4 separate regions of the Homo sapiens genome follow, and regions 1, 2 and 4 are each linked to region 3. The links come from fine-mapping of genetic effects on gene expression. A gene starts in region 3. Each other region holds a variant in brackets. All regions are shown on one strand. Distances are from middle to middle. Region 1 holds the start of GALK1 (galactokinase 1). Region 2 overlaps TRIM65 (tripartite motif containing 65). Region 3 holds the start of FBF1 (Fas binding factor 1). Region 4 overlaps FBF1 (Fas binding factor 1).

Region 1 (8,100 bases), 170 kb after region 3:
ACCATAATGCCTGTTGAATTAATGGACAACTGATAAGAATAGCAAACATTTATTCTGTGCGTACCAAGTGCCAGCTGCTGGGCTGGGCACTTTATGAAGATGATCTCATTCAGTTCCTTTTACAACAGCATGTCTGGGAGCAATCTCTAGCCCCATTTTACACATAAGAAACTGAGGCCCAGAAAGGTCACTTCATTTACCTGAGATCATATAATAGGAAGAGTGGAGATGAGGGCTCAGCACTGTTGGGTGTCAGAGGTGAGGTGAGTAAAAGGCATGCAGAGAAGGGGCTGCTTCGCTCACCTCTGCCCTGATAGAATGGGCCCTTGTAGGGAGGTATGGTTTGTGAGTTTCATTCCATTTCAACCAGCCCAAGGGCCACTCATGGTATGATTTGTTTGGTGTTGGCTGTGCCAAAAAATGCTTTACTGAAGTGTGCTCAAAAGGAGCAGGTCATCCGATGACATCTGGAATTGCTTGGGCTGGAGTGCAGTGGCGTGATCTCGGCTCACTGCACCTTCAACCTCTGGGCTCAGGTGATCCTCCTGCCTCAGCCTCCCAAGTAGTCGGGACCACAGGCACACACCACCAAGCCTGACTAATTTTTGATTTTTTTTTTTTTTTTGAGACGGAGTCTCAGTCTGTTGTCCAGGCTGGAATGCAGTGGTGTGATCTCGGCTCACCGCAACCTCCGCCCCCTGGGTTCAAGCGATTCTCCTGCCTCAGTCTCCTGAGTAGCTGGGATTACAGGCTTGTACCACCACACCGGGCTAATTTTTCTATTTTTTAGTAAAGATGGGGTTTCACTATGTTGGCCGGGCTGGTCTTGAACTCCTGACCTCAAGTGATCCACCCGCCTCGGCCTCCCAAAGTGCTGGGATTACATGCATGAGCCACCGTGCCCGGCTAATTTTTGATTTTTTTGGAGAGATGAGGTCTCCCTTTGTTGCCCAGGCTGGTCTTGAACTCCTGGTCTCAAGCGATTTGCCCACCTCAGCCTCCCAGTGTTGGGATTACAGGCGTGAGCCACCACACCTGGGCCCCATTCTTTTCTTAACAGCTTTATTGAGATATAATACATACCATATAATTCACCCATTTAAAACATAAAATTCAACAGTTTAGGATATTCACAGGCATGTGCAACCATCACCACAGTCCATTTTAGAACATTTTCCTTACCACAGAGAAACCTGCCATCCTTTGGCTCTGACCCTGCTATTCCCTCAGGCCTAAGCAACCGCTAATTAACTTTCCATCTGTAGAGATTTGCCGATTCTGGATATACAACAGGTGGTCTTGTGTGACTGGCTTCCTTCACTCACCATAATATTTTCAAAGTTCATTCTTTTTTTTTTTTTTTTGAGACGGAGTTTTGCGCTGTCACCTGGGCTGGAGTGCAGTGGCACGATCTCTGCTCACTGCAAGCTCCGCCTCCCAGGTTCACGCCATTCTCCTGCCTCAGCCTCCCGAGTAGCTGGGACTACAGGTGCCCGCCACCACGCCCAGCTAATTTTTTTCTTGAAGGCTCCATCCATGTTGTTACACGTATCAGTACTTCATTTCTTTTTATGGATTAATATTTCTATTGTATAGATACATCACTTGTTTTTTTTTCCCGAGACCAAGTCTCACTATGTCACCTAGGCTGGAGTGCAGTGACGAGATCTCGGTTCACTGCAAACTCCACCCCCCGGGTTCAAGTGATTCTTGTGTCTCAGCCTCCCGAGTAAGCTGGCATTACACATGTGCGCCACCATGCCTGGCTAATTTTTGTGTTTTCAGTAGAGATGGGGTTTCACCATGTTGGCCAGGCTGGTCTGGTCTTGAACTCCTGCTCTCAAGTGATCCGCCTACCTCGGTCTCCCAAAGTCTGGGATCACAGGCATGAACCACCACATCTGACATTTGAGCATCTTTTCATGTGCTTATTGGCCATTTGTATTTATATTATTTGGAAAAATGTCTCTTGAAATCTTTTGCTTTTTTTTTTTCTTCTTTGACACAGGGTCTCTCACCTTCTGAGTAGCTGGGACCACAGGTGTGTGCCACCCAACCTGGCTAATTTTTTTTTTTTTTTTTGTAGCAGTGAGGTCTTCCCACGTTGCCCAAGTTGGTCTCAAACTCCAAGCCCCTGAGATATACATGATTTGCAAGTACTTTCTTCCATTCTGTGAGTTGTCTTTTCACTTTCTTGACAATGTTCTTGTCAGGCCTCTGAGCCCAAGCTAAGCCATCATAGCCCCCGTGACCTGCACGTATACATCCAGATGGCCTGAAGCAACTGAATATCCACAAAAGAAGTGAAAATAGCCTTAACTGATGACATTCCACCACTGTGATTTGTTCCTGCCCCAACCTAACTGATCAATGTACTTTGTAATCTCCCCCACCCTTAAGAAGGTTCTTTGTAATTCTCCCCACCCTTGAGAATGTACTTTGTGAGATCCATCCCTGCCCGCAAAACATTGCTCCTAACTCCACCACCTATCCCAAAACCTATAAGAACTAATGATAATCCCACCACCCTTTGCTTACTCTTTTCAGACTCAGCCCGCCTGCACCCAGGTGAAATAAACAGCCTTGTTGCTCACACAAAGCCTGTTTGGTGGTCTGTTCACACGGACACGCGTGACAGTTCTTTGTTGCAGAAAAATATTTCACTTTGATGAAGTACAGTTTATTTTTCTGTTGTCACTTGTGCTTTTGATGTCATATCTAAAAAACCATTGCCTGGCCGCATTGGCTCACACCTGTATCCCAGCACTTTGGGAGGCTGAGGCAGGCAAATCACTTGAGGTCAGGAGTTCAAGAGCAGCCTGGCCAACATGGTGAAACCCTGCTTTTACAAAAATTATCCAGGCATGGTGGAGGGTGCCTGTAATCCCAGTTACTGGGGAGGCTGAGGCAGGAGAATCGCTTGAACCTGGGAGGCGGAGGTTGCAGTGAGCCAAGATCGCGCCACTGCACTCCAGCCTGGGTAACAGAGCAAGATCTGTCTAAAATAAATAAATACGTAAATAAATAAAAATAAAAAAACATGACTAGGTGTGGTGGCTAACGCCTGTAATCCCAGCACTTTGGGAGGCCAAGGTGGGTGGATCACCTGAGGTCAGGAGTTTGAGACCAGCCTGGCTAACCTGGTGAAACCCCAGTCTCCACTAAAAATACAAAAAATTAGCCGGGCATGGTGGCACGTGCCTGTAATCCCAGCTACTCCGGAGGCTGAGGCAGGAGAATCGCTTGAACCCGGGAGGCAGAGGTTGCAGTAAGCTGAGATCACGCCATTGCACTCCAGCTTGGACAACGAGAGCGAAACTCCGTCTCAAAAACAGAAACCAAATAAACATTTCCTAACCAATGTCACAAAACTGTACCCCTATGTTTTCTTCTAAGAGTTTTCAGAATTGCCCTTGGAATGCAGTTCCCC[A/G]CTCTTTGGGCACACCCCTGAGCAGGCCCCAAGCTAAATCCCTGGCCATAACTCCCCACACTACTCCCACCCTAACCCCAAGCAAGCTGCTTACATTTCAGTCTTTCAGTTTCAAGGTTCCATGTAGGGTGGGCAGCTGTGGACAGGTATCAAGGCAGCAGTTGGGGCCGGCCAGCAGGTTTAGGATGCAGGATAGCAAGAGAAGAGTGCCTGACTGGGAACAAGGCCACGCCTCTGAGACAAGGGCTTCTGGGCTGAAGTAGTGCCTGCTGGGGCCAACAGCACAACCTACCTGGACAGCTGTGGCAGGTCCTTAAGGGAGGGGCTGGGCCCACTGCTGGCCACCGCCACCCTAGTCCAATTCTCCATTGCTAGGAGCTGTTGCGTATTACCTAGAAAAGGAGCTTGTAAAATTGACTCTCTGGTCACCACCAAACTTGTCTTTTTTTTTTTTGAGACAGAGTTTTGCTCTTGTTGCCCAGGCTGGAGTGCAATGGTGTGATCTCAGCTCACCGAAACCTCCGCCTCCCAGGTTCAAGTGATTCTCCTGCCTCAGCCTCCCGAGTAGCTGGGATTACAGGCATGAGCCACCATGCCCAGCTAATTTTGTATTTTTTAGTAGAGATGGGGTTTCTCCATGTTGGTCAGGCTGGTCTCCAACTCCCGACCTCAGGTGATCTGCACACCTCGGCCTCCCAAAGTGCTGGGATTACAGGCGTGAGCCACTGCGCCCGGCCCAAACTTGTCTGTCTTTATCTCTACTTACAGTGAGTGTCAGGTCACCCTCTTGGAGACCGGTGATCAGAGGCTGATGACCTCTCACAGCTGCTGGCCCTGGGGACCTAGGGGATCCCTTTGGGAATCCCAGGTCAACCGGGTGCCAGCTCCATTGCTCTGGCTGTGTGGGTGGTGGTGGGTGGTGAGGCACATAGAAAGTCACCAGCGCCAGGGAAGGGCAGCTCAGAAATCCTGGTCATGCCAAGTGCCACTCAGGGCTATTCTCACTCTAGTGAGTGCTCATTGGTTCTTCCCGAAGTCCAGAGGGAAGGACACCATCGGGGGCGCTGTATCCCACCCGGCACCATTAGCCCCTGCCACCCACCACCCAGCAGCTGGATTCCCACGGGAGTTGCGGGTGGGGGCGGAACCGGCTGAGGTCTGGGGGCGGGGCGTCCGGGCGCGGGGCGGGGCTGGCGGGAATGTGCGCACCCCCGCGCGGGGCCCCGCCCGAGCATCCCGCGCCGACGGGGCTGTGCCGGAGCAGCTGTGCAGAGCTGCAGGCGCGCGTCATGGCTGCTTTGAGACAGCCCCAGGTCGCGGAGCTGCTGGCCGAGGCCCGGCGAGCCTTCCGGGAGGAGTTCGGGGCCGAGCCCGAGCTGGCCGTGTCAGCGCCGGGCCGCGTCAACCTCATCGGGGAACACACGGACTACAACCAGGGCCTGGTGCTGCCTATGGTGAGGGGCTGCACGGGGAGCCCCTAGCCCGCCGCCGCCTGTCCCGGCCGCCGAGGAGGGCGGGCCTCGGGGACGCTGGGGGCGAGTTCTTCCCGCGGGAGATGTGGGGCGGGCAGCTGCGCCTGGAGCACCGGTGCACGGAAGAGTCCCCGGGACAGGCTGTTCCCCACGTTGGAAGGGAGGAAGCGAGGAAGTGGCCGGGAGAGGGTGCGCGGCCGCCTCTTGGCTCAAGCCCGCCCTCTGGGGGCTGGGGCTCCTCGCCTTCAACCTGGGAGCATGTTCCCCTTAAACTGTGAGGCCCTGTGTGCCACGCAGAAGGGGACACTCCGCGCCTCCGGCCACCGTGGGGCCCCAACCGCAGACCTGGGCGAACGTAGCCTTCTGGCCCAGCCCGTTCAATTTACAGAGGAGGAAACTGAGGCCTAGAGAGGCCCAGTGAACTGCTGGAGGTCACACAGCAGGTTCTTGGCGGGGCTGCGACTTGGGAGTGAGGACTCCCAGCTTTCAGCGGGGGGCGCTTTCCGCCCCATCTGCAGCTTGGGGAGTGCACAGGTACAGGATGTCCAGAGCCACCCCAAAATGTAAAGGCTTTGGAGCTCCAGTGATCTGTTTTCCCTTTGGGCTAGCTCTCCCCCTTGCCCCACAGCTCAGGGCAGAGTCCAGGTCTGTGCTCCAGCTGCAGCCGCCCCGCCCCTGAAGACCTAAGGGGGCAGGGCTCAAGCCCCCAAGGTCAGCTGGCCCTCAGGATCTTCCCTGCGACGCTGAACCTGGAGGTTCAGAACCTGATGACTGTGGAGGCATCAGAACCTCGGCTGGAGGCAGTGTCATTGGAGAGGCTTACTCCAGCTGGCGGAAGCCTCACGTACTGCTTGTCTCTCCTGCCAGGCTCTGGAGCTCATGACGGTGCTGGTGGGCAGCCCCCGCAAGGATGGGCTGGTGTCTCTCCTCACCACCTCTGAGGGTGCCGATGAGCCCCAGCGGCTGCAGTTTCCACTGCCCACAGCCCAGCGCTCGCTGGAGCCTGGGACTCCTCGGTGGGCCAACTATGTCAAGGGAGTGATTCAGTACTACCCAGGTATGGGGCCCAGGCCTGAGCCAAGTCCTCACTGATACTAGGAGTGCCACCTCACAGCCACAGAGCCCATTCATTTGTCTGATACACTGTGGGGAAGGCTTGTAGAGTGGAGCATCCCATTGTACAGATGAGGAAACTGATGCCCCCAGAAGGTCGGGAACTTGCCCTGGGTTTCCCGTGACCTGATTGGAGGAGCCAGGATTTGAACCCCAGCCTTTTTTCCCTCCAGAGCCCTAAACCAGGAGGACAATTAGAAGTGTCCCAGCAACCTCAGAGGGTGGGAAAATGGAGGGCAGTGGGTCCCTTGGCCCAGCAGGTTGGTGGCTTCTGACAATTGAGACACACACCCTAGAAACAGCTGCTAGGCCGTTGCTGCCCTTCCCGCCAGGACACCTGCCCTTCCTGTGCCATCCTCCCAGGCAGCCCCTCTTACCATCACCTGTTCTTTCCCCTGCAGCTGCCCCCCTCCCTGGCTTCAGTGCAGTGGTGGTCAGCTCAGTGCCCCTGGGGGGTGGCCTGTCCAGCTCAGCATCCTTGGAAGTGGCCACGTACACCTTCCTCCAGCAGCTCTGTCCAGGTACCAGCTAGGCCCCAGCCCTGACCCAGCCCTCCTTCCCTGAGGTCTCCAGGTGGTCCCAGCTTCTACTATGCCTTATGGAGGGGGTGGCAGGGACTCTCCCTGGAGTGTCATTGAAGCCACTGCTGCTTCCACCAGCCCTAGCCTCCCCACCTCACCCTGTACTGCAGACTCGGGCACAATAGCTGCCCGCGCCCAGGTGTGTCAGCAGGCCGAGCACAGCTTCGCAGGGATGCCCTGTGGCATCATGGACCAGTTCATCTCACTTATGGGACAGAAAGGCCACGCGCTGCTCATTGACTGCAGGTTGGGCTCGCTCCCCTCGTCCCCTCCCGCCCTGCACTCAGCAGCTCCTGGGTGGGAGTGTGCCCACTGCCTGGCGCAGCAAGCACACGCTTGGCCTCGTCATCTCCCCCATTGTAACTCCACCCCAGGTCCTTGGAGACCAGCCTGGTGCCACTCTCGGACCCCAAGCTGGCCGTGCTCATCACCAACTCTAATGTCCGCCACTCCCTGGCCTCCAGCGAGTACCCTGTGCGGCGGCGCCAATGTGAAGAAGTGGCCCGGGCGCTGGGCAAGGAAAGCCTCCGGGAGGTACAACTGGAAGAGCTAGAGGGTGAGAACTGCCAGGGTGCTCTATCCTGGAGGCGGCTGTGCTCCCTGCTGGCGCCTCAGTGTGGCCTTGACCCTGCCTGGGACCCCGATCTCCAGGGCCTTCTGCCATGCTCTCCCCAGTCCCTTCAAACACTGCGCACCCAGGGTTCCAATCTCAGCAGGGCTGCTTGAAATCCTAAAATGGTCTTATCTAATCAGAAAAATCATGTTTCCATTGTGGAAAATGTAGAAAAGTACAAAGTAGAAAATAATAAGCTATAAGGCCACTACCCAGAGATAGCCACTGCTGACATTTTCACGTTTCCTTTCAGTATTTTTCCACATCTGTCTTCAAAGCTGAGTATATGTAATATATCATCACTTTCCCCCCCCACCCCCTTTTTTTTAAGAGGCAGGGTCTCATTCTGTTGCCCAAGCTGGAGTGTAGTGGTGTGATCATAGCTTACTGCAAACTTGAACTCTTGAGCTCAAGGGATCCTCCCAGCTCAGCCTTCCAAGTAGCTGAGATTACAGGTGTGCCACCATGCCCGGCTAATTTTTATCTTTGTAAAGACGGTCTTGCAGTGTTGCCCAGGCTGATCCTGAACTCTGGCCTCAAGTGGTCCTCCTGCCTTGGCCTCCCAAAGTGTTGGGATTATAGGCATGAGCCACTGCGCCCAGCCCATTTGCCGTGTTTTTTTTTTGGACACAGAGTTTCGGTCTTGTCACCCATGCTGGAGTGCAATGGTGCGATCTCAGCTCACTGTAACCTCTGCCTCCCGGGTTCAAGTGATTCTCCTGCCTCAGCCTCCCGAGTAGCTGGGACTACAGGCGCCCGCCACTACGCCTGGCACATTTTTTATAGTTCTAGTAGAGACTGGGGTTTCACCATGTTGGCCAGGCTGGTCTCAAACGCCTGACCTCAGGTGATCCTCCCGCCTCAGCCTTCCAAAGTGCTGGGATTACAGGC
Region 2 (8,100 bases), 51 kb after region 3:
GAAGCTTTTGACCAGGTGCTGGGAATGGAGCCCCTGGGACCTGCGTGGTTTGTCCTGCTCTCATGAGAGCACGGTGTTTTGATTCCCAAGGGACTCAGGGAGCGCAACCGAATAGGGGTCCCTTCCTCCCCTCTCAGTCTCAAAACTAGGGCCAGGGACTGGCCGGATCCCCAGAAGAATCTAGTTTATCCAGCAAGTAACTGCCCACTTGTCAGACAGCTTTGGTGCTTTGGGAGGTCCCTGCAGTCAGCTTCTCAAGCCCCAGGGCCTCCTGGGCCACTGACCCCTCTGCAGTGAGACAGGGACCAACGGCTTTAGTGTTTGGGGTCCTCCCTGCGAGGCCTCCTGAGCCAGCATTATCGCTTTCCTGTATTGATGGGTGGGGGGTTAGGCCCAGAGAGGACAGGTGCTTGGCCTCAGCTTGCTCAGCATGCAAGAGGTAGAAATGGGAATGGAAGTTGGGTCCTGAGCCCAAGGCTTCCGCTCTGCTCAGGCACCACCCTGCTGCAGATTAGGAAGGACTTTGTCTGGACCCCCCCGGGGCACGGCCCCAACTCTCCCTGGGTTAGACCGAGGCCGGTGCTCTGGAGGCTGGCCTGGGGTGGCGTGGGGAGGGGCTGCCTGGTGTCTGCAGGCATGGTTGGTTGTCTGAGAAAGGACATCACAGCCAATCCTGGCCTTCTCTTGTTGCTTGTCCCGTGGGCCCGCACCACAGGCCCAGCTGAGAGCCAGCCTGGAGGTTACCCAGCAGCAGGCCACCCAGGCCGAAGGCCAGCTACTAGAGCTGCGCAAGCAAAGCAGCCAGATCCAGGTACGAGGCCTGTGCCTGCCCGCCCACCATGGCCTCACACTGCATCCTGGGGCGGCCACCAGCTGGTCCCTGGAACACCAGGCAGCAGGGAGCGGGGCTGAGCAGGGAGCTGGGCACAGGGGTCCTGGGGAGGTTCCCGGGACCCTGCCTCCCCACATCCCTGACCCTCAGCCCAGCAGGCAGCCCTGGCCCTAGCCTCCCTTGGTATGGCACAGGGCCCTGGCCACCCTGAAGCCCCTCCTGTTCCCGCCCAGAACTCGGCCTGCATCTTGGCCTCCTGGGTCTCCGGCAAGTTCAGCAGCCTGCTACAGGCCCTGGAAATACAGCACACGACAGCACTGAGGAGCATCGAGGTGGCCAAGACGCAGGCGCTGGCACAGGCTCGAGACGAGGAGCAGCGGCTGCGGGTCCATTTGGAGGCTGTGGCTCGCCATGGCTGCAGGATCCGGGAGCTCCTGGAGCAGGTGGATGAGCAGACCTTCCTGCAGGTGCGAGGGCTCAGGGCATAGGTGGCGGACTTGCTTCCCTGCCCCTCAGGCCCAGGCTTACTTGTTCTCCCTGGGGCTCAGGAATCGCAGCTCCTCCAGCCCCCAGGGCCTCTTGGGCCACTGACCCCTCTGCAGTGGGATGAAGACCAACAGCTGGGTGACCTGAAGCAGTTGCTAAGCCGGCTGTGTGGCCTCCTCTTGGAAGAGGGGAGCCACCCTGGGGCACCAGCCAAGCCTGTGGACTTAGCCCCCGTGGGTAAGACTGACCCCAGGCCTCCCCCTGCTGTCCTGGGTCCAGCTGCCCCTCCCGCTGGGGGGGTGGAGGCGGGTCAGGGCCCACACATCGTGACCTCTCCAACCATTCCCTTAACACTGCTTTGCCCCCTAGAGGCCCCAGGTCCCCTGGCACCGGTCCCAAGCACAGTTTGTCCACTGAGGAGGAAACTCTGGCAGAGTAAGGAGGCCGTTCGTGTATGTGTGCCCCTGTGTGTGCGTGTGCAAGGAAGTGCCTGTGTGTGCTGTGAGCACGTGTGTGTGTGCATGTTCGTATGCACGTGTGAGTGAGGGGGGCACTTGTTTTGACTGTCCTGCCGGGACATCTGAGCCTGGTCCCACCCGCTGCACACCTCGTGCACATCCACCCTGAAGCAGACGCAGCCAGTGTGCGTTGAAGGACAGAGTCTGGGGCACAGACCCGTAATTCTTCCACTTAACACTGAGTTAATGGCTCTCAGAGCCCCAGTTTTCTCAGCTGTGAACGGGGCTGATAGAGGATTCCGCCTGCGAGGTCGTGGCGAGGATTAAGTGCTATGGTGACGGCCGGTGCTCAGCGTGCCTGGCGGAGGTTTAGCAGCGGATAAATGGAGATCTGGTTGTGCTGTCTTCCCCCAGCCCACTGCTGTCCTCCTTTCCCCAACAGATTATCGCAATCTGACCTTTGATCCAGTCAGCGCCAACCGTCACTTCTATCTGTCGCGCCAGGACCAGCAGGTGAAGCACTGTCGTCAGTCCCGGGGCCCAGGCGGGCCCGGCAGCTTTGAGCTCTGGCAGGTGCAATGTGCCCAGAGCTTCCAGGCCGGGCACCACTACTGGGAGGTGCGCGCGTCAGACCACTCGGTGACACTGGGCGTCTCCTACCCGCAACTGCCACGGTGCAGGCTGGGGCCCCACACAGACAACATTGGCCGGGGACCCTGCTCCTGGGGGCTCTGCGTCCAGGAGGACAGCCTCCAGGCCTGGCACAACGGGGAAGCCCAGCGCCTCCCAGGGGTGTCAGGGCGGCTCCTGGGCATGGATTTGGACCTGGCCTCAGGCTGCCTCACCTTCTACAGCCTGGAGCCCCAGACCCAGCCCCTGTACACCTTCCATGCCCTCTTCAACCAGCCCCTCACCCCCGTCTTCTGGCTCCTCGAGGGTAGGACCCTGACCCTGTGCCATCAGCCAGGGGCTGTGTTCCCTCTGGGGCCCCAGGAAGAGGTGCTCAGCTGAAGAAGGCATGGGATGGAGCCCTGGCATAGCTGCCACCATGCCTATGTGCCCAAGAGCTGCCCAGCTTCAGCTTGGGGACTGGAGGACCAGCTGTTGGCCTCTCTGTTAACTCAGAAAGAGATGGGAGGTTGGGGGAGGTGAGCATAAACGCAGAGTTCACTGTTGCAGCCTTTTTGAAGGGGACACAGTCTAGGAGGGGGATAAATGGGATGCCCTTGCCCCAGAGAGAACCCAGTTCTAGGTACTGTCTGGGCCTGGGAGGCGAGAGCAGTGCCCAGGGGACTTCTGGGCTTACAGGACAGCGTGTGTGACAAAATTCAGATCTACCTGAACTTGCCTCTGGAGATGATAAGGGCCAAAGGAGCAGTCAGGGAGGGGCGGTGAGCCAGAGTAGTCCCAGGGGGAGACAGATTCCTCCCTCCTCCCCGCCTGCAGCTCTCTTTAATTTTTTGTAACATTTGGAGAGACGTCCGTCCTGTCTTGTAGTCTTTTTATTTTGTGCATCCTTATAATTGTATTCTACAAACAATTTTGTTTTCTGCATTTAAACATTTTTGTGTTTTTAGGAGATGGTCTTGCTCTGTCACTCAGGCTGGAGTACAGTGGCACAATCATGGCTCACTGCAGCCTCGAGCTCCTGAGCTCAAAGGATCCTCCCACCTCAGCCTCCAGAGTAGCTCAGATTACAGTGTTTTCTGAAGTTTCCTGACTTAACATAAGCATTTTTCACATGATTGAAAATTTTCACTGATTGCTGTAGTCATTCTAATGACTATCAAGTTTATTTATCCATTATTGGACATTTAAATTTCTTTCTTTTTAGCTATACAAACATTGATGTGTTTTTTTTGAGACAGGATCTCCATCTGTCACCCAGGCTGGTGTGCAGGGGTGCGGTCATGGGCTCATGGGATTCTCCTACCTCAGCCTCCTGAGTAGCTGGGATTACAGGTGTATGCCACCACGCCTGGCTTATGATGAATATTTCTGAGTGGGATGTTTGGCCACATTTATGGTCATGTATGTAGGCTGTTACCTCAAGTGAGTCACTCAGGGAACAATGAGCACTTGAAGATTTTTTTATACAAAAGGCCACAGTGAGGCCACCTTGAGTCAAGCCGACTAAGGCCCCTCAACCCTGTCACTAAGCAGCACGTGACACTGGCAGGACCTTCATCTCCAGCATCCCACCCCTGGGTGTGGGACTTTGGGGCAGCCGTGTGTGCAGGTGTCGGCACAGGCTAGCTCCTCCTGGTTTGGTGTGGTGTTTGCCATTGCAGAGCAAGCTGCCACGAAGACCCCTGGGCATGATTTTGCTTGTATTTCCGGAAGTGGGGTTGCTGGGTCATAGGGCAGGTGTAATTTTTTTTACTTGAAATGTTCCACTTCTTGTTCTGGGAGGTGGTTCCAAGGGTGTCTGCTTTTGGCCAGGCGCAGTGGCTCACGCTTGTAATCCCAGCACTTTGGGAGGCCGAGGCAGGCGGATCACAAGGTCAGGAGTTCGAGACCAGCCTGGCCAACAAGGCAAAACCCCGTCTCTACTAAAAATACAAAAATTAGCCGGGCATGGTGGTGTGCGCCTGTAATCCCAGCTACTGGGGAGGCTGAGGCAGAAGAATCGCTTGAACCCAGGAGGTGAGGTTGCAGTGAGCTGAGATTGCACCACTGGACTACAGCCTGGGTGACAGAGCGAGACTCTGTCTCAAAAAAAAAAAAAAAAAGGGAGGGCTGTCTGCTTTTTGTAACTTGAAAAACTGGACATCTATGTTATATGTACTCATGGATAAATATTTCACAATAAAACTTTTTAAAAGGATAATACGTGTAATATACATACCCCCAATATATATAATGTTTTTATATTTGTAAAAAAAAAAAACCTCCCACGACGACCCCACCCCGATCACTGCCGTCATTGCAGCCTCCATCTTGTGGCCCTGCTCCTAGCCTGTGGCTGTTTGTTCAAGAGCAGGGCAGGGCCTTGGATTGGCACAGCCCAGGCAAGGAC[T/C]TTCCAGCAAGATCCTCAGGTGGGAGCTCCCCAGACATGGGAAGGGAATCTGACATGTGCAGCCCCACAGCCAGGAGGCGGGCAGGACCTTGCTGACCAGCTAGGGGCAATGGTGGGAGCTGAAAGCCCAGCCAGGCAGGATGTATTGGCCTGGCCAGATGGCTGTCATTGCTGTCCCCACCTCATAGTCCCTCCTAATCCAAGGCTGCAGCAGAAGCACCCAACGGGCTGAGCCGCGCTCTGAAAGGGGCAGAGAGAGGAAGAGTTGGCCCCTTTCTGCTTCTGAGGTGGGAGGTGTTTGGGGTCATTTATTATGTGAAATTCATCTTCCTATTGGGTGGTGGTTCTTTCTATATTCTGCGAGCGTGTTCTATATTATTAATAATAACCCCTTTTTCTTTCTTTCTTTTTTTTTTTTGAGACAGAGTCTTGCTCTGTCGCCCAGGCTGGAGTACAATAGCGTGATCTCAGCTCACTGCAAGCTCCGCCTCCCGGGTTCAAGCGATCTTCCTGCCTCAGCCTCCCGAGTAGCTGGGATTATAAGCGCACACCACCACACCCGACTAATATTTATTTATTTATTTATTTATTTATTTATTTATTTATATATTTTTTGAGACAGAGTCTCACTCTGTTGCCCAGGCTGGAGTGCAGTGGCTCAATCTCGGCTCACTGCAAGCTCTGCCTCCTGGGTTCACACCATTCTCCTGCCTCAGCCTCCCAAGTAGCTGGGACTACAGGCACCTGCCACCACGCCCAGCTAACTTTTTGTATTTTTTAGTAGAGACAGGGTTTCACCGTGTTAGCCAGGATGATCTCGATCTCCTGACCTTGTGATCCACCCACCTTGGCCTCTCAAAGTGCTGGGATTACAGGCGTGAGCCACCACGCCCGGCGTAATTTTTGTATTTTTAGTAGAGATGGGGTTTCACCATGTTGGTCAGATTGGTCTCAAACTCTTGACCTCGTGATCCACCCGCCTGGGCCTCCCAAAGTGCTGGGATTACAGGCGTGAGTCGCCATGTCCGGCCCCCCTCTTTTCTTCCTAATGGACAGCCTCCCAAGTCAACATAGGCTCAGAGACTCCCACCCTTTATCTTTTTTTCTTTTTTTTTTTTTTTTTTGAGACGGAGTCTCACTCTGTCACCCAGGCTAGAGTGCGGTGGTACAGTCTTGGCTCACTGCAACCTCTGCCTCCTGGGTTCATGCCATTCTCCTGTCTCAGCCCCCAGAGTAGCTAGGACTACAGGCACCCGCCACCATGCCCAGCTAATTTGTTTTGTTTTTGAGACAGGGTTGCACTCTGTTGCCCAGGCTGGAGTGCAGTGGAGCAATCTCAGCTCAGTGCAACCCCTGCCTTCCACATTCAAGTGATTCTCCTGCCTCAGCCTCCCGAGTAGCTTGGATTATAGGCGCCCACCACCACACCCAGCTAATTTTTGTATTTTTAGTAGAGTCATGGTTTCACCAGTTTGGCCAGGCTGGTCTCAAACTCCTGACCCATGTCATCTGCCTGCCTCAGCCTCCCAAAGGGATCCACACCTGGGATTGCAGGTGTGAGCCATTGCTTTTTTTTTCTTTTTGCTTTTTCTCTTCTTTTTTTTTTTTTTTTTTTTAAGAGATGGGGCCTCACTCTGTCACCCTGGCTGGAGTGCAAGGGCAGGATGCAACCTCTGCCTCCCGGGCTCAAGTGATCCTTCCTCCTCCTGCCTCAGCCTCCTGAGTAGCTGGAACTACAGTCGCATACCACCTCGCCCAGCTAATTTTTAAATTTCTTGTCAAGAATGGGGTTCTCACTGTGTTGCCCAGGCTGGTCCTGAACTCCTAGCTTCAAGTGATCCATGCCCAGCCAGCCGAACTGATTCTGATAGAACTCTCCACCGTCTCTCCAGGAAAACGCACGCTGGTATCGAGGGAAAAGGCAGCACAGAGTTGGGATGTGACATTTGGAAAGGGGACGTGTTTGATTAGCTTGTGGGTGTTTCCAGCATGTCTGGCCTACCCACCAGACCCCCTTACAGATTCTGGGCTTCAGTTGTGCACAATCAGGTGGATGGTCACCCAGAGACAGAACAAGGGCAGGAGAGGTTGTGAAAGACAGGGACCTCACAGGCCAGCTGGATTGGAGGGAGTTGGATTGGAGGCCAGAGAGGTGTATTAGTCTGTTTTTGTGCGCTAATAAAGACATACCTGAGACTGGGCAATTTATAAAGGAAAGACGTTTTTGGTTTTTTTTTTTTTTTTTTTTTGAAACGGAGTCTCGCTCTGTCACCCAGGCTAGAGTTCAGTGGCACAATCTCGGCTCACTGCAAGCTCCACCTCCTGGGTTCACGCCATTCTCCTGCCTCAGCCTCCTGAGTAGCTGGGACTACAGGTGCCCGCCACCACGCCCGGCTAGTTTTTTGTATTTTTAGTAGAGACGGGGTTTCACCACGTTAGCCAGGATGGTCTCGATCTCCTGACCTCGTGATCCGCCCGCCTCGGCCTCCCAAAGTGCTGGGATTACAGGTGTGAGCCACCGCGCCTAGCCAGGAAAGAGGTTTAATGGACTCACAGTTTCACATGCCTGGGGAGGCCTCACAATCATGGTAGAAAGCGAAGGAGGAGCAAAGGCATGTCTCATATGGTGGCAGGCAGGCAAGGAAAGCGTGTGCAGGCGAACTGCCCTTTATGAAACCATCAGATCTCGTGAGACTTATTCATTACCATGAGAACAGCATGGGAAAAACCAGCCCCCATGATTCAATTACCTCCCACCAAGTCCCTCCCACGACACGTGGGGATCATGGGAGCTGGGATTCAAGATAAGATTTGGGTGGGGACACAGCCAAACCATATCAGAGGTGAAGGGTAAAGAGAACAAGGGGATGTGCCTTTCCAGGCAGGATAGGAGCAGGACGCTGCCTGGAACTGAGGCTTTGAGTAGCATCAAGCTGGAAGGTAGAAGACAATGGAGCCAGCCCTTGAGATCCTGGGGGACTGGATTTCCATCCTAGGATTCCATGCCCAGCCAAACTGTCAGTCAGGGATGAAGCCCGAACAGAGACACTTGCAGACACGTCAGCCTCCATCCTCAGGAAGCACCCAGAGGGCAGACTTTTCAAAAATGAAGAAGTAAATCAGTGAAGGGAAAAGGGAGGTCTGGGATCCAGGAAACGGGGAATTCAACACAAAGGAGAAGTAATCAAGCATCTGCAGTCTCCAGAAACATGAGCACAAACAAGCTGGCTGGGCGCGGTGGCTCCCGCCTGCAATCGCAGCACTTCGGGAGGCTGCAAACCTCCCTAGGAAATGTGGTAACACAC
Region 3 (8,096 bases):
GGTCTGTTGGATTCAAAATTTTGTAAGCCATTTTCACAAGTACAAAGATACATTTTAACCTTGTCTTCTCCAAAATTACTGAGTAGGAATTTTATTTTTATCTTTTTGAGACAGGGTATCACTGTCACCCAGACTGGAGTGCAGTGGTGGGATCTTGGCTTACTGTGACCTCTGCCTCCCGGGTTCAAATGGTCCTCCCTCCTCAGTCTCCTGAGTAGCTGGGACGACAGGCACGTGCCACCATGCCCAGCTAATTTGTTCTATTTTTTCTGTAGAGACGGGGTTTTGCCATGTTGCCCAGGCTGGTCTCAGACTCCTGGGCTCAAGCGATCATTTCGCCTCAGCCTCCCAAAGTGCTGAGATTATAGGTGTGAGCCACAGCATCTGGCCCAGAGTGAGGAGAATTAATGAGATTTTTTGTGTGTGTTAGATAATATTGATTTAAGCCTTTTTTTAAAAAGTACTCTCAACCAAATACAAAATTGAAAATGTGAGGTTTAATAGAAATGTGTTGGCTATTTGCAATGGATTTTCTTCTTGCCCAAGTGTTTGGAGTTCTACTTTATGCTCTGTATTTAAAAATTAGTGACCTCAAAGCAGAGTTGATGACACAGGCTTTGGGGCCCTCATGTTCTTGTCTTTAGAACATATCACTACTAAGTATCAGCTTATCTTCAGAACATTACAACATTCACCGTGTTCATATGCTTTCTGAGAAGTCACCACTTGTAATTTCAGATCACATACACCTGAAGGCATTTTATAGTTCCTAAAGTTAACATGTTAGATCTTTTTTTTCCACCCCATGAGGGTCTCACTCTCACCCAGGCTGGAATGCAGTGGTGTGATTGTAGCACACTTTGGCCACCAACTCCTGGGCTCAAGTGATCCTCCTGCTTTGGCCTCCTCTGAGAAGCTGGGATTACTGGTGCACACCACCACACCTGGCTAATTTTTTATTTTTTTTTATTTTTGGAAATAGGGTATGGCTATGTTGCCTTGGGCCCGTCATGAACTCCTAGCCTCAGGTGACCCTCCCACCTCAGGCCTCCCAAAGGGTTGGGATTACAGGAGTGAGCTACTGCACTGGGCCAACATGTTAATTTTTTTTTTTTTTTTTTTGAGATGGAGTCTCCCAGGCGGGAATGCAATGGTGCGATCTCGACTTCACTGCAATCTTCACCTCCCGGGTTCGAGCGATTCTCCCACCTCAGCCTCCTGAGTAGCTGGGATTACAGGCACCTGCCATCACGCTCGGCTAATTTTTGTATTTTGAGCAGAGATGGAGTTTCACCATGTTGGCCAGGTGATCTGCACTCCCACTCCCCCCACACTTCCCAAAGTGCTGGGATTACAGGCATAAGCCACAAGCCACCTCACCCAGCCAACATGTTACATCTTAATTCTTGGATTTTCTTCACTGCAGGGCTTTGGGTGGAGAAATAAAACTCTTCAAATGCATGATCTTGGAGATCCCTGTGAATCAATAATTCTTTAGACAACTGCGGCTCAAAATCCCTCCTTTCCCTTTTCCGAGTTATTCCATCCATCTTATTAGAAAGGAAGTGAATTAGGTGTAGGTGGTCTGTAACACCTGCACATCTTTTTATACGTGTAGAGGGTATGCCTGGGATATATAGGTTGTCTTCAAGCAGTAGCTGCTACTACAGCTAGAGAGAGGAGGAGTGCCAGGAAACTGATGACCTGAGACCAAGAGTCTTGTTGATGTTCTGACTTAGATAAAGGTTTTGATCATTTTCATGAAATAATGCAGGGAAGTCATTTCTGCTGTTTCTTTACTACTCCATTCTTGGAGGATTAGAACAAGTCACACTGTAATTGACTAAAACGACTTTTTATTTTAAAATATTGATGGTGGGGTTTTGCTTTTTTTTTTTTTTTTTTTTTTGAGACGTTGTCTTGCTCTTTCACCCAGGGTAGAGTGCAGTGGCGAAATCTTGGCTCACTGCAACCTCTGCCTCCCGGGTTCAAGCAATTCTCTGCCTCAGCCTCCTGAGAAGCTGGGATTACAGCGCCTGCCACCATGCCTGTCTAGTTTTTTTGTATTTTTAGTAGAGACAGGGGTTTCACCAAGTTGGCCAGGCTGGTCTTGAACTCCTGACCTCGTGATCCACCCACCTCGGCCTCCCAAAGTGCTGGGATTACAGGCGTGAGCCACCGTGCCGGGCCAGTGTTTTTAACTGTCCACACTTACTAAATTTTCCAGTACTTCTTCCTATGGTTCATGATAGTAAACACAGAAACATATAAGGAACATTATTAGAGTTACCAGATGTTAGCTGTTGCATATGTGCACATTCCTAGATTCAAGGGTGTTTTTGCCTTAAATTTAAGTGGGTCATTGGTTGTCTTGGGAAGATCATGGAAAATTCGGGATTTTTTAGAATTCTGAACCAAAATATGTTTTGAGTGTTTCTTAGTAAATGTGTGATCTTCCACCTTCCACATTCAGACTGCGGACTACACTTCATAAATGCCTTTTTATTTCCAGTTATGGATTCAACTAAATGACTGCCTTGGGAGCACATAATTACTTTGCTACCTTTTTCCCCCTTTGCTGTTGTGGCTCGAGTTTGGTTCTCACCTGAGAAGATGCATTGAGCATATGTTGTTACCCAGCCCTGGCTTAATGGTGTCCTGTGGGGTAGGGGTGGGAGGACGAGGGGCACGGGGCCAGAGCATGTGAATGGATCATGGTTGGACAGCTGTGACCTGCCAGCACTGCGGGTAAGCAAAACTACAAACCGTTCTTTCCTCTGTGACATTGAATAAACCTTAATAAAATTCATAATTAGCACATACTAGAAAAAATGTGACTTAATCTTTTTGTGGGGCGACAGTATTGGGTTTCATTCTGGCTATACAGCTTTGATTGGATCATTAAACAGGTCAGTCACTTCCCTCAAGCTTTGGGGTGTGGAATAAACACCGGTGAATTTGTGGATTCACCCGTCAACCTCCCAATATCAACACATTTCTCACGCCTCCGCGTCGGCCACGTGTCAGCCCTCAGAAGTGGGCAGGAGGAACTTTTAAGCTTCCCGGCAGTTCCCAAGAGGGCCTTTGAGCCTGGCGCCCTCTTCCCGGAGAGGCGTTGGGGCAGCTCCTAGCAACGTGCCCGCCGCCGGCAGAAGCCCGGCCCCGCCAACTGCCGCGCGCGGCTCCCTGGGAGCTGTAGTTCTTCATGGCGTCCCCACCTCCTCTGTGAGGGCGGGTGAGTCGACCGCCGACTGCGACTCCCAGGATGCCTCGCGCCCGCCTTTCCGCGGGAGGCCAGACGGCTGAGGGTGCCGGCAGCGGCTGGAAGCGGGAGGCCAGTCCTGGCCGGGCTGGGCGACCCGAATGGAGCCAGGGCCGGCGCTGGTCCCAGCGGCCGCACCTCCGGGGGCACGGCGCGTAACAGGAGGCTTCCGGGGCTGAGAGCGTTACAGGCTGCGCTCCGGGGCCAGATAGGCCGGGCGCTCAGAAGGGTGACGCATTGAGGGGCGCGGAGTCTCGGGACGGAGGGGCGACTCCGGCTAGGGGTCTTGCTTAGGGGTGGTCTCGGGATCTGTAAAACGCCTGGCATGGAGTCGGCTGAATACATGTGGGGACGGGGTTACTCTGTAGCCCTTTGGCCTTGGCAAACCAAGCCTAGAAAATCCCCATAGTCTGAGAAGCCCGTACAGGATCGATAGGAGATGCCAGAAGTTCCTTGATGTGTTATGGGACACATTTGGACTTGTAGGTCGTGAAGTCGCCATTGCAGAGAAAAAGAAACAAGGCCGGGCACGGTGGCTCACGCCTGTAATCCCGACACTTTGGGAGGCCAAGGCGGGAGGATCACTTGAGGCCAGGCGTCTGGGACGACCCTGGGCAACATAGGGAGACCCCCGTCTCTACAAAAAAAATTTTAAAATTTGCCGCACATGGTGGCGTGTGCCTGTGGTCCCAGCTGCTAGGGAGGCTGACATTGGAGGATCGCCTGAGCCCAAGGAGGTCGAGGCTGCAGTAAGCTATGAGAGCTGTGATCGTGCCACTGCACTCCAGCCTGGGCAACAGAGCGAGACCCTGTCTGGAAAAAAAAAAAAGAAAGAAGGCCAGGCGTGGTGGCTCACACCTGTAATCCTAGCACTTTGGGAGGCCGAGACGGGCAGATCACGAGGTCAGGAGTTCGAGACCTCCTGGCCAACAGTGAAACCCCGTCTCTACTAAAAATACAAAAATTAACCGGGCATGGTGGCATGTGCCTGTATTCCCAGCTACTCGGGAGGCTGAGGCAGGAGATTCGCTTGAACCCGGGAGGCTGAGGTTGTGGTGAGCCAAGATCGCACCACTGCACTCCATCCTGGGCAACAGAGCAAGACTCCGTCTAAAAAAAGAAAAAAAAGAAAACACATGTATTCAGGGTGGGCTCTGTAGGTAAGCCCAGATAACCCTTGCATTCCAATAACAGGACAGGCCAATACTTGGGACATAAAGAGGACCCCTCTGACTCCTTTCTTCCAGGACATCCTGTAGGTGGGTTTTGGTAAAGTGGAGGAGGGGGAGGGAGACAGCTAATTCCGAGGAAAATGTTCTCAATGGGTCAGATTTACTGCCTATGTAAAGGGAAATATTTCCACTGTCAGTGAAAATCGTGTTGCTGGACGTGGTGGCTCACACCTGTAATCCCAGCACTTTGGAAGACCAACGCAGGAGGATTGCTTGAGCCCCAGAGTTCAATACCAACCTGAGTAACACAGTGAGACCCCGTCTCGAAAAAAAAAATTTTAAAAAGAAAAAGAATATCAAAGAGTAACCAGAGTTCATACCTGCTTTTGTGCTAAATGCTGCCTAGAAAGTAGTCATGGGTGTTGCCTGGGAAAGGGTTTCAGCCTTGGTGCCAGGCACCCACCTCCTTTCTGAAATGAGTACTTGCCACTTGCTGCATCGGCTTTCAGGGTAAGGGATGATGGCCACTGCCCTTTTTTCAAGTAATCTCAAAGCCTCAGAAAGCCCATTAAGTTATCCAGAGCACGTTTTTTTTTTTTTTTTTTTTTTGGAGACAGAGTCTCGCATGTTGCCCAGGCTGGAGTGCAGTGGGGCGATCTCGGCTCACTGCAACCTTCTCCTCCTAGGTTCAACCTAGTCTCCTGCCTCAGCCTCCTGAGTAGCTGAGATTACAGGCATATGCCACCATGCCCAGCTAATTTTTGTATTTTTAGTAGAAATGGGGTTTCACCATGTTGGTCAGGCTGGTCTTGAACTCCTGACCTCAAATGATCTGCCCACCTCAGCCTCCCAAAGTGCTGGGATAACAGGTGTGAGCCACCGCGCCCAGCCTGAGAGTACTTTGCTCCTCTTCTGAAGTGCATCCCCTATAAGGAATTTTTAATTTATGGAAATGGGCTTTACCTCTTGAATGGGCAAAGTGAGAGAACTTTGATAACCCTTGGATTCATGCTGTTAAACCTACATCTTTTTTTTTTTTTGAGATGGAGTCTTGCTCTGTTGCCCAGGCTAGAATGCATAGCATGATCTCAGCTCACTGCAACCTCCGTCTAGCGGGTTCAAGCGATTCTCCTGCCTCAGCCTGCCAAGTAGCTGGGATTACAGGTGCCTGCCACCACACCCAGCTAATTTTTTGTATTTTTTAGTAGAGGTGGGGTTTTACCATGTTGGCCAAGCTGGTCACGAACCCCTGACCTCAGGTAGTCCACCTGCCTCGGCCTCCCAAAGAGTTTTGGGATTACAGGCATGAGCCATCGCGCCCGGTCTCTTTTTTTTTTTTTTTTTTTTTTGAGATGGAGTCTCACTCTGTTGCCTAGGTTGGAGTGCAGTGGCGCGGTCTTGGCTCACTGCAGCTTCCACCTCCCCGGTTCAAACGAGTCTCTTGCCTCAGCCTCCTGCTGCGGGATTACAGATGTACACCACCACACCCAGCTAATTTTTGTTTTTAGTAGAGACAGGGTTTCACCATGTTGGCCAGGCTGGTCTTGAATTCCTGACCTCAGGTGATCCCCCCGCCTTGGCCTCTGAAAGTGCTGGGATTAACAGGCGTGAGCCATGGCGCCCAGCCAAAGCTACATCATTTTTAAGCAACCACTTTAATTTTCTTCATTAGGGAGTATGAGCCTGATGTGGGCAGAATCCAGATGAGCTGGCCAGTGCTGTGAAGGAGCTGAGAGCACCCCCGAGAGCCGTGAGATGGTAGGCAGAGTTCAGAGTAAGATGCATGGAAAGCGAACATGCCTCCCATCCTGCATCCCCAAAGATCTTGACTGCATGCAACACTCTGGGGGCTGGGCGGCAAGGACCAGGATGGAGACCCTGGAGAAGAGTGACAGGAGGTGGCATTGATACCAAACTTTCGACGACCAAGGTTTCTTCTGAGACTCTGAGTGTCCAGCTGGAAGCGTTTTTAAGTGTCTGTCACTGGTATTGAGGAGTCAGGGGCACGGAATAGAAGACATTTCCGGTCACATGACATCTCGGCTGGGAGGGTTTGCATGTCGTGTCTGGGAAAGGAGTGACCTGCCCGCCCATTGGCACCCATCGCTGGTTAGCAGGGCTGTTTCCACGCTCTGAATGAGTCCGTTCTCAGAAACTATAGGAACACATAAAGGACTTACATCTCTAAATGCCATTGGTGCTCTTGCCTCTGGTTACTTGGCAAAAGGCAACGCAATTCATTCTGCATTGCCAATTTCCACCTGTGTTCACTGTTTGGTTTTCTTGATGTGATTTGTTTTTCCCATTTTAGGCACCAAAAACCAAGAAAGGATGTAAAGGTGAGTGGAGAGATGGAACATTACTCTTAAGCCAAATATATATCTTTTTCCCCTTTGGTCCTGGAACAATGAGATGTGTTTATTTAAATGTTTTTGGGCCGGGCACGGTGGCTCACACCTGTAATCCCAGCGCTTTGGGAGGCCGAGGTGGGTGGATCATGAGGTCAGGAGATCGAGACCATCCTGGCTAACACGATGAAACCCCGTCTCTGCTAAAAATACAAAAAATTAGCCGGGCGTGGTGGCGGGTGCCTGTAGTCCCAGCTACTCGGGAGGCTGAGGCAGGAGAATGGTGTGAACACAGGAGGCGGAGCTTGCAGTGAGCCGAGATCTCACCACTGCACTCCAGCCTGGGCAACAGAGTGAGACTCCGTCTCAAAAAAAAAAAAAATGTTTTTGATCAGTCTTGCTGTTCTTCCCATTATTCCGTAGGCAGCCTTGGTCTTCCTTATGTTGCCTCACTGGTCCTCAGAGAAGTTCAGACGTAAATAAGATATGAGGTTTTGGAAAAAATCCTCCTCCTTGGGCTCTGTATCCAGAAATATGTGGTTGGGATTCAGGGTGGGAAAGCTGGTGTGGGGAAACGAATTCGATATTCATACTTAGGTTCCCCCACATGCCTCCATCAGAAAGTGGCCATTGATGAGGACATCCAGACCAGTTCTGGGGGGTCTTAGATGGAAGGGTACAAGGAGCCTACTTGTCTGAAAGTAGCCTCCATGTGCCTAGAAATCTTGGGCACTCTTCCCAGCGAGCTGCACTGGGCTGTGTTCAGGGTCTGGAAGACTGATCTTTGGCCAGTGTGTCATGGTAGGCAGGTAGAATATAGGTTCTGCTGAAAATCTGCACCATCATCCTTTCAGATAGTTGTGTTTTTTTGTTTTTTTTTTTAAGACGGAGTCTTGCTCTGTTGCCCGGGGTAGAGTGCAATGGCGTGATCTCAGGTCACTGCAACCTCTGCCTCCCAGTTTCAAGCAATTCTTCTGCCTCAGCCTCCCCAGTAATTGGGATTACAGGCATGTGTCACCATGCCCGGCTAATTTTTGTTTTGGTTTTGTTTGTTTGTTTGTTTTTGAGACGGCGTCTTGCTCTGTCACCCAGGCTGGAATGCAGTGGCGCGATCTCGGCTCACTGCAACCTCTGCCTCCCAGGTTCAAGCAATTCTCCTGCCTCATCCTCTCCAGTAGCTGGGATTACAAGCATGCGCCACCAGGCCCAGCTAATTTTGGGGGGGGTCTTTTTGTTGTTTTTTGAGACGGCGTATCGCTCTGTCGCCCAGGCTGGAGTGCAGTGGTGCGATCTCGGCTCACTACAAACTCTGCC
Region 4 (8,100 bases), 29 kb after region 3:
TATCCCACTAGTCAGAGATGTCCACTGCTGACCTGATATCTATCCTGTAGCCATGTCAACGTAGATAGAGATGCTTTTATGTTGTGAAGCATTTTGATTCGCCTCTTCATTTGGTAACTGTGTTAAGCATCTGCCTGGGGTCAGGCACAGTGAAGCTCTCGCCTTGTGCTGTGTGTGGCTGGGCCCACAGCACAGCATTAAGCCACCCTGTGCTTAGCCTGCTTGGCTGATGGGTGAGGACAGGCAGAGTGCGTAGCTGGCGATTCAGCGGCAGGGATGTTGCTGCTCTTTGGCCCTCCCAAGCTGCTAGCCTTGGTGCTGTTGGAGACCTGAGGGTTGGGAGGGCACCTGCTGGGTCCTTCTCTTGGGCAGAATCGTGCGGGCTGGGCCCTGGCAGTGCCTCCCAGGCACCCCTCATTTTGTGCCTCTTTGGGAAGGACGTGTCAGTGGCATAGTGTGGGAGACACTGGTGGGTTCATGCAGCTTCTCAGGGAGTGGCCAGGCGTGATCCTCAGGGCGGGAACCACGCTCTCAGTCCTGCCCTGGGCCCTACAGGAACGCTGGCGGGTGACTGCCGAGCAGTCCAAGGCGGAGTCCATGCAGCGCGCCCTAGAGGAGCAAAGGAAGGTCACGGCCCAGCAGATGGCCATGGAAAGGGCGGAGCTGGAACGGGCCAAGGTGAGTCAAGCCACCGCACTCAGCCCCTGCCCCTGCCATTATGCCCAGGGACACTCACCCCGTGCCTTCACCCCCACATCCCAGAGCGCCTTGCTGGAGGAGCAGAAGTCTGTCATGCTCAAGTGCGGGGAGGAGCGGCGGCGCCTGGCTGCCGAGTGGGCGGAGTTCTCCGCGCAGCAAAAGCTGAGTAAGGAGCGGGCCGAGCGCGAGGCCGAGCGGGCATTGCAGGTGGACACCCAGCGGGAGGGCACCCTCATCAGCCTGGCCAAGGTAGGGCCCAGAGCCTCCGGACAGTGGAGGGCCCAGGGTTGCCTGCGCCCCTCCATCTGGACACATCCGCTTCCAGTCTTAGGAAAGGAGAGTGTAGCACTAATGTCACAAGAGCATAGGGATTAAAACAGTAATCGCATCATCATGCTAACATCTTCCTCGTATTGTCCCAGGTGCATTATACACATTTTATTTGATCCTCATGTTCCCATGACTTTGGTCATTTAGAAATGAGGAAACCGAACTTCAGAGTTGAGCCTGCCACAGTCACGTGGCTTGTGAGGGCAGCACTCCGGCTTGGCCCCAGGCTTCTCTGGCTCTCCCTGGAAGCCCCTGGCTCCACCACCTCCTCCCAGGGGCAGGGTGGGCAGAGGGGACCCTAGAGTCCTGCACAGAGTGCAGCGCAATTCCTGGGAGGAGAATGCAGCAGGGCCTCCGCTGTCTCCAGGAGCAGGCTGAGCTGAAGATCAGGGCCAGCGAGCTCCGGGCCGAGGAGAAGCAGCTGGCAGCGGAGAGAGCAGCCCTGGAGCAGGAGCGGCAGGAGCTGCGGCTGGAGAAGGAGAGGATCAACGCCACCGCCCTGCGTGTCAAGCTCCGCGCCGAGGAGGTGGAGAGCATGAGCAAGGTGCTGCTCGGGCACATGGGCGTGGGCGCATCTGAGCCCAGGCAGCCCTGACCCAGGCGGCCTCCCTGCAGGTGGCCTCCGAGAAGTACGAGGAGGGGGAGCGGGCATTGCGCGAGGCCCAGCAGGTGCAGGCAGAGCAGCAGGCCCGGTTGCAGGCGGTGCAGCAACAGCAGGAGCGGCTGCGGAAGCAGGAGCAGCACATGCACCAGGCAAGGCTCCCTGAGTGTATGGCGCCCCTGCCCCCGGCACCCCCAGCCTCCCACCTCACAGCTGAGTCCTTCTTTCTGGGGGAACGGGGACAGGAGCATCTGAGTCTGGCCCAGCAGAGGCTGCAACTGGACCGCGCACGACAGGACCTGCCCTCTAGCCTCGTGGGTCTGTTCCCCAGGGCCCAGGGCCCTGCAGCCTCCAGCCAGAGTGGTGAGTGGCTCCAGAAGGAAGGGCCGGCGGCTCAGGACTGGGCAGGGGCAGTGCTAGGAGTGGGCAGGCCCTCCTCCAGCCGCTCCAGTTAAGGCGGCCAGCTGGGTTTTATAGTCGCCTTATTTCTTTTTTACACAAATAATGTGTGTTAATTTTAGATAAATCAGAAATAGAGGAACACTATTATGAAAAATGTCACCTTTTTGTAACTCTGGACTCAGGAAAAAAAAAGGAAATAAAAAAAGTCATTGTCAGGCTGGGCGTGGTGGCTCACGCCTATAATCTCAGCACTTTCGGCAGCCGAGGCAGGCGGATCATCTGAGGTCAGGAGTTCAAGACCAGCCTGGCCAACATAATGAAACCCCGTCTCTGCTAAAAATACAAAATTAGCCGGGTGTGGTGGCAGGTGCCCGTAATCCCAGCTACTCAGGAGGCTGAGGCAGGAGAGTCACTCGAACCCGAGAAGTGGAGGTTGCAGTAAGCCGAGATTGTGCCACTGCACTCCAGCCTAGGGGACAGAGCAAGACTCCGTTTAAAAAAAAAAAAAAAAAAAAAAAGTCACCCTCAACGCCACTCCTGAGTCTTGAGAGAACCACTTTTCACTTTTAACATTTTGGTGCATAATGTTCCACTCTGGTACTTTTTTTTTCTTTTCTTTTTTGAGATGGAGTTTCACTCTTGTCACCCAGGCTGGAGTGCAGTGGCATGATCTCGGCTTAGTGCAACCTCCACCTCCTGAGTTCACGCGATTCTCTTACCTCAGCCTCCCAAGTAGCTGCGATTACAGGCATGTGCTACCATGCCTGGCTAATTCTGTATTTTTAGCAGAGATAGGGTTTTGCCATGTTGGCCGGGCTGGTCTTGAACTCCTGACCTCAGGTGATCCACCCGCCTTGGCCTCCCAAAGTGCTGGGATTACAGGCATGAGCCAACGCGCCCAGCCTGGTACATGTTTTTAAAAACAAAATTAGGATTGTATGTGTTTTTCAATAACTTTACTTTTTTTACTCAGTAATGTACACGTGGAACAGGTTTTCAGATCAGTCATTAAACATTTAGTCAATTCCCAATCAGCACAGTTTTCCACTGTGAGGCTGCTCTGTGCTGAGTGATTTGTTGTCTTAAAGAGAAAGACTACCCAGTGGACATCTTCCTACATATGTGTTTGTACCTTTGCCTGATTATTTCACTGGAATAAATTCCTATAAATGGTCTTTCCAGGTAGGAGCAGGTATGCATTTGCCAGAGGCTTCTGAGAGTTAGTGCCATTGCACCCTGAGTATATGGCCAGGGTCCACCCACTGGCGGGGGGAGCAGCTCTGCAGGAACAAGCTGTGACCGCCCGGTATTTCCACCAACACTTTGGTCCCTGACTTCCTCCTTGGCCTTTTCAGCCCTCATGCCTCCTGCTCCCACCACCCGTTGGTGCAGCCAGCCGCCAACTGGCCTGGACCCCAGCCCCTTGCACCTCCATGCCAGGCTGGCACTGCTGAGGCACATGGCAGAGCAGGTGAGTCTCTCCTGGCCTTGGGGATCCTTGTGTTCACGAGTCCTTCCAGCTCAGGGCAGAGGCAGGGAGGAGCACATGGTAGCCCTGGGGAGGGGTGACCCCAGCTCCTGGGGAGTAAAACTGCAGTTTGCTTAGTGAGCCAATGCTCAGACTTCCACACTAGGCCAGGTTCTGTGCAAAGCAATTTGCATATGTCATCTCAGTTAAACCTCATGATAACCTATAGCAATAATGATAACAGGCTGGGCACAGTGGCTCACACCTGTAATCCCAACACTTTGGGAGGTTGAAGCAGGAGGATCACTTGAGCCCAGGAGTTTGAGACCAGCCTGGGCAATATGTTGAGAC[A/C]CCGTCTCTACAAAATGAAAAACTAAAAAAAGAGGACCAGGTGCGTGGCTCACACCTGTAATCCCAGCACTTTGGGAGGCTATGGTGGGAGGATTACTTGAGCCCAGGAGTTCGTGGCCAGCTTGGGCAACATAGTGAGACCTCGTCTCCACAAAAAAATAGCTGAGCGTGGTGGCATACACCTGTACTCCCAGCTACTCCGGAGGCTGAGGTAAGAGGATCACTTAAGCCCGGGAGGTCGAGGCTGCAGTGAGCCACAACGGTGCCACTGCACTCCAGGCAACAGAGCGAGACTCTGTCTCAAAAAAATAAATATTAAAAATTTAAAAATTAGCTGGGCATGGTGGGGCATATCTATAGTCCCAGCTACTTGGGAGGCTGAGGTGGGAGGATTGCTTGAGCCCAGCTGGTCGAGGCTACAGGTGTGTTCACACCACTGCACTTCAGCTTGGGTGACAGAGCAAGGCACTTGTCTCAAACTAAACAAAACAAAACTATAATGATAACAGTTGTCATTATGGAGCATTTCCTGTGTGCCAACCTCAATGCCGAAGGCTTTGTTTATATTTTACTTATTTATTTATATTTAGAAATGGGGTCTCACGATGTTGCCTCGGCTGGTCTCAAAGTCCTGGGCTCAAGTGATCCTACCCCCTTGGCCTGCGGATTAGCTAGGATTACAGGCATGAGCCACTGTGCCTGGCCTGCTTTGTGTATTTTTTAAGCTTTTACCCTCACACAGCCCTGCAAGGAAGGGCTACAAGGAATGTTTACAGACAAGGAAACTGAGGCTTAGAGACATGAAGTCATGTGCTCGTAAGTTCCACAGCAAACAAGTAACCTTGCCAGGATTGAGACTGTGGTCTGTCTCACTCCATACCTGGGCTCTTTCATGGCCCCTGCTGACTCCCAGAGCCAGGCAGAGTCAGGGACGATGTGGGGAGGGGCCTCAGTGACGGCTGGCTCAGCTAGCATCCAGGGCTCCACCTCCCTCTCAGCTCAGGGAAGGTGACCGCCCATCCAAACCTGCCTTGCAGGACCGTGACTTCTTGGAGAATGAACAGTTCTTCCTGGAGACCCTGAAGAAAGGGTCCTACAATTTGACATCTCATTCAGCCTGAGTGGGACCCCAGCCGATTCCCCAACAGAGGGTTCGGACCCCAGAACTGTCCTGTTCCTCCGGCTGCCTCCATGGAGGCAGTGCCTGGGGAGGATTCTGAGATGCTTGAGGCCTGATGACAGCTCTTCCGTGGACAGGGTGCAAGTGCATCCTTTCCAAATGTGCCAGCCCGGGGCAGCCCCTGCCTCTGGGGCTCTGTGGTGTAGGCTATCTTACCATGGCTTTGGCTGCCCTGCCCCAAAGCCATTGGCTTGGATCTGAGGGTCTGAGTTGGCAGCAAGGACCCCCAGCTCTCACTGGGCTCTGTGGGCTCCCCCTGGGCTCTGTGGGCTCCCCCTGCTCCACAGGTAGACTGTTGTGGGCTCTTTTTGCCTGGGCCTCTTCTGAGGCAGGAGCTTTCTTGAGGGATGCCACAAACAGCCTTCCCTACTCCCTGCCAGAGCAGTTCCCTCCCTGATGAGCTGGAGAAGGGCCCTCTGGCCTCCTGACAGTACAGGGAGGGCACCAGCTAGATCCTCCCTTGTGGTGTGAGATGTTCCTGGAACTCAGCCAGGCCCTCCTCCTCCTGGGCTTGCCCAGAGCCCCCACCCTATTCCCAGCATTGCCCGAAGGACCAACCAGTTTGGGTGAACAGTGGCCTCCTCAGCTTCCTCCCCATCTGGGTGCCCCACCGGCGGCGGAGGGAGCTGTGGCGATGGTGGGGTGTGGGGAGGGACGAGGAGGGAAGCCTCTGTGCTGCTCACCTGCCCAAAGCCCAGCTCAGCGGGTACGCAGTGGAGGCGACAAGGAACCAATCACAACTACAGAGGTTTCTCTGATCCTCCTCCACTCCCGCTGCTTCAACTTGACTAAGCTTAAAAAAACTGCTTTTGCCATGGCTCATCGGAGTTTATACTTATTTCTTAGAAAATGTTTCCTGTTATTTGCTGGACAAGTCCCAAAGAACAGGCAGATGTTCTTATTAAAAGATCAGCCTATAAGATTGGTCAGGACCAGGCGCCTCTGGCCACGTGCCTCTCCCCTCCAGCACCTGCGGTCTGCGGTGGCACCTGGCAGCTGGACCACAGCCAGGAGAAGGGTACTATTAGCCCTGCTTCAAACATGCAGAAACTGAGGCCCGGGGAGATTAAATAACCTGCCTGAAATGACAGTGAGTAGCTGCGCCTGGATTTGAGTTCTGCTCTGGCCAATCCCCAAGCTCCACGCTGTCAGCCACCCCGCTCTCCTACCTCCCAGAGGAGCAGGCTACACTCCTGGTAGGTGCTGGTGTGGGAGGAAGATCTTTTCAGGCGCTTCTGGGGCTGGTACCAACACTGAGGAGGGAAGTATCACATGCCCCATTGGAAGCCTTGGTTAAGTCTCAAATTTGATTCTCCACAAAAGAGACTCAACCAGTCCTGAGGCAGACCTGTGCAAAGAGCTGGGGGGGTCTAAGGATGGGCACGTCGGCCCAGGGGCAGCTGGTATCTAGGCAGCCACCTGCAGGACCTGCAGGTGATCAAGCACATACATCGGGGAGGGCGGTGCTGGGAGACCCACAGGGGGAGAGCATGGCCTTCAAGACAGAGTAGGGAGAAGAGGTTAGAATGAGAGGGCTTTGCATATCTTGTTAAAGACGTGCAACTTTTCAGGGCAAATTTGTCTGAGGGCAAATTTTCAGGTCTTCACTAGAAGATTTTAAACAAGGTTGAACCATATTTGTATTTTAGAAAACCCATTGGCCAGGCACGGTGGTTCACGCCTGTAGTCCTAACACTTTGGGAGGCCAAGGTGGGTGGATCACTTGAAATCAGGAGTTCAAAACCAGCCTGGCCAACATGGTGAAACTCTGTTTCTACTAAAAATACAAAAAAACTAGCTGGGCATGGTGGTGTGTGCCTGTAATCCCAGCTACTTAGGAGGCTGAGGCAGGAGGATCGCTTGAACCCGGGAGGCACAGGTTGCAGAGAGCCGAGATTGCACCACTGCACTCCAGCCTAGGCGAGAGAGCAAGACTCCGTCTCAAAAAAAAAACAACAACAAAAGAAAACCCATTGTGTCTGCAGGGTGGGGACCGGACCAGAGGGGGCAAGAGTGGGACAGAGGATGTGTGGGAAGGCAGCTGGCAATGGTGCAGGGGAGGGACTGTGGGCAAGACTACCGGGCATGGCAGGGAGGGCCCACAGAAAAGTGGCCCTCGGGCCTAGTGCCAGTCATGGAGGATCAGAAAGGAAGACGTGTTGAGGACGCCCAGGTTCCTGGCTTGGGTGACTGGGTGGTGTCACAGATGAGTATACAGTGCCGGGGGGACAGCCAAGCAGAGACATTCCACAGGCACTCAGTTATAATGGCACTTTACTCAGTGTAAGCACTCAGCATTCCTGTCACCGCCATGAGGGTGTGGCAGGCATCCTAATTATCCCCTTCAGCCTTCTCCCAGGCCACAGACACTGGAGAGGGCTGAGTACAGAAATGAGTGTTGTGTAGCTGCAGCTCTTTTTTTCCTTCAAAATTGTAAACAAGATCATAACCCAAGTGCTTCATTCAGTTCCTTTTAGAGAGAGAAATATTGCGGCCGGGCGCGGTGGCTCACGTCTGTAATCCCAGCATTTTGGCAGGCCAAGGTGGGTGGATTACCTGAGGTCAGGAGTTCGAGACCAGCCTGACCAACGTGGTGAAACCCCGTCTCTACTGAAAATACAAAAATTAGCCGGGCGTGGTGGCGTGTGGCCTGTAGTCCCAGCTACTTGGGAGGCTGAGGCAGGAGAATCGCTTGAACCCAGGAGGGAGAGGTTGCAGTGAGCCGAGATTGTGTCACTGCCCTTCAGCCTGGGTGACAGAGTGAGATTTTGTCTAAAAAAAAAAAAAAAGAAAAAAAAGAAAAAGAAATATTGGTGGAATGTAATGGGTAAAACATACTGGTGCAGGTGCCGGGCGCAGTGGCTCACGCCTGTAATCCCAGCACTTTGGGAGGCCGAGGCGGGCGGATCACGAGGTCAGGAGATCGAGACCATCCTGGCTAACACGGTGAAACCCCGTCTCTACTAAAAATACAAAAAATTAGCCGGGCGTGGTGGCGGGCGCCTGTAGTCCCAGCTACTTGGGAGGCTGAGGCAGGAAAATGGCATGAACCTGGGAAGCGGAGCTTGC

Evidence for each region. PIP is the estimated chance that this variant, and not a neighbour inherited with it, causes the effect.
Region 1: its variant is fine-mapped to the expression of FBF1 in whole blood (TOPMed, PIP above 0.99). The same link has a PIP of 0.9 or more in blood mononuclear cells.
Region 2: its variant is fine-mapped to the expression of FBF1 in lung (TOPMed, PIP above 0.99).
Region 4: its variant is fine-mapped to the expression of FBF1 in whole blood (TOPMed, PIP above 0.99).

What each region holds. Positions count from the first base shown.
Region 1 is chr17:75,761,756-75,769,855 of GRCh38, reverse strand. GALK1 (galactokinase 1) reads left to right here and starts at 4,664. Exons shown (of 8, transcript NM_000154.2): 1 at 4,664-4,884; 2 at 5,770-5,959; 3 at 6,417-6,536; 4 at 6,707-6,842; 5 at 6,971-7,152. The coding sequence starts at 4,720. RefSeq lists silencers at 4,500-4,689, 4,920-5,069 and enhancers at 5,180-5,409, 5,440-5,649. The variant A/G (reference allele first, on the strand shown) is at 3,431.
Region 2 is chr17:75,885,466-75,893,565 of GRCh38, reverse strand. TRIM65 (tripartite motif containing 65) reads left to right here. Exons shown (of 6, transcript NM_173547.4): 2 at 716-811; 3 at 1,066-1,299; 4 at 1,381-1,555; 5 at 1,688-1,753; 6 at 2,219-4,603. The coding sequence ends at 2,787. Among named protein-coding and RNA genes, the nearest start is that of TRIM65, 7.4 kb to the left of the region's middle. The variant T/C (reference allele first, on the strand shown) is at 4,796.
Region 3 is chr17:75,936,243-75,944,338 of GRCh38, reverse strand. FBF1 (Fas binding factor 1) reads left to right here and starts at 3,297. Exons shown (of 30, transcript NM_001319193.2): 1 at 3,297-3,491; 2 at 6,107-6,192; 3 at 6,746-6,773. The coding sequence starts at 6,190. It overlaps ACOX1 (acyl-CoA oxidase 1), which reads left to right. Exons shown (of 14, transcript NM_004035.7): 14 at 1-2,832. RefSeq lists an enhancer at 3,079-3,148 and a silencer at 3,259-3,528.
Region 4 is chr17:75,907,595-75,915,694 of GRCh38, reverse strand. FBF1 (Fas binding factor 1) reads left to right here. Exons shown (of 30, transcript NM_001319193.2): 24 at 556-678; 25 at 763-948; 26 at 1,397-1,573; 27 at 1,645-1,782; 28 at 1,876-1,993; 29 at 3,388-3,503; 30 at 4,889-6,121. The coding sequence ends at 4,972. Among named protein-coding and RNA genes, the nearest start is that of MRPL38, 6.8 kb to the right of the region's middle. RefSeq lists an enhancer at 473-767 and a silencer at 4,672-4,832. The variant A/C (reference allele first, on the strand shown) is at 3,852.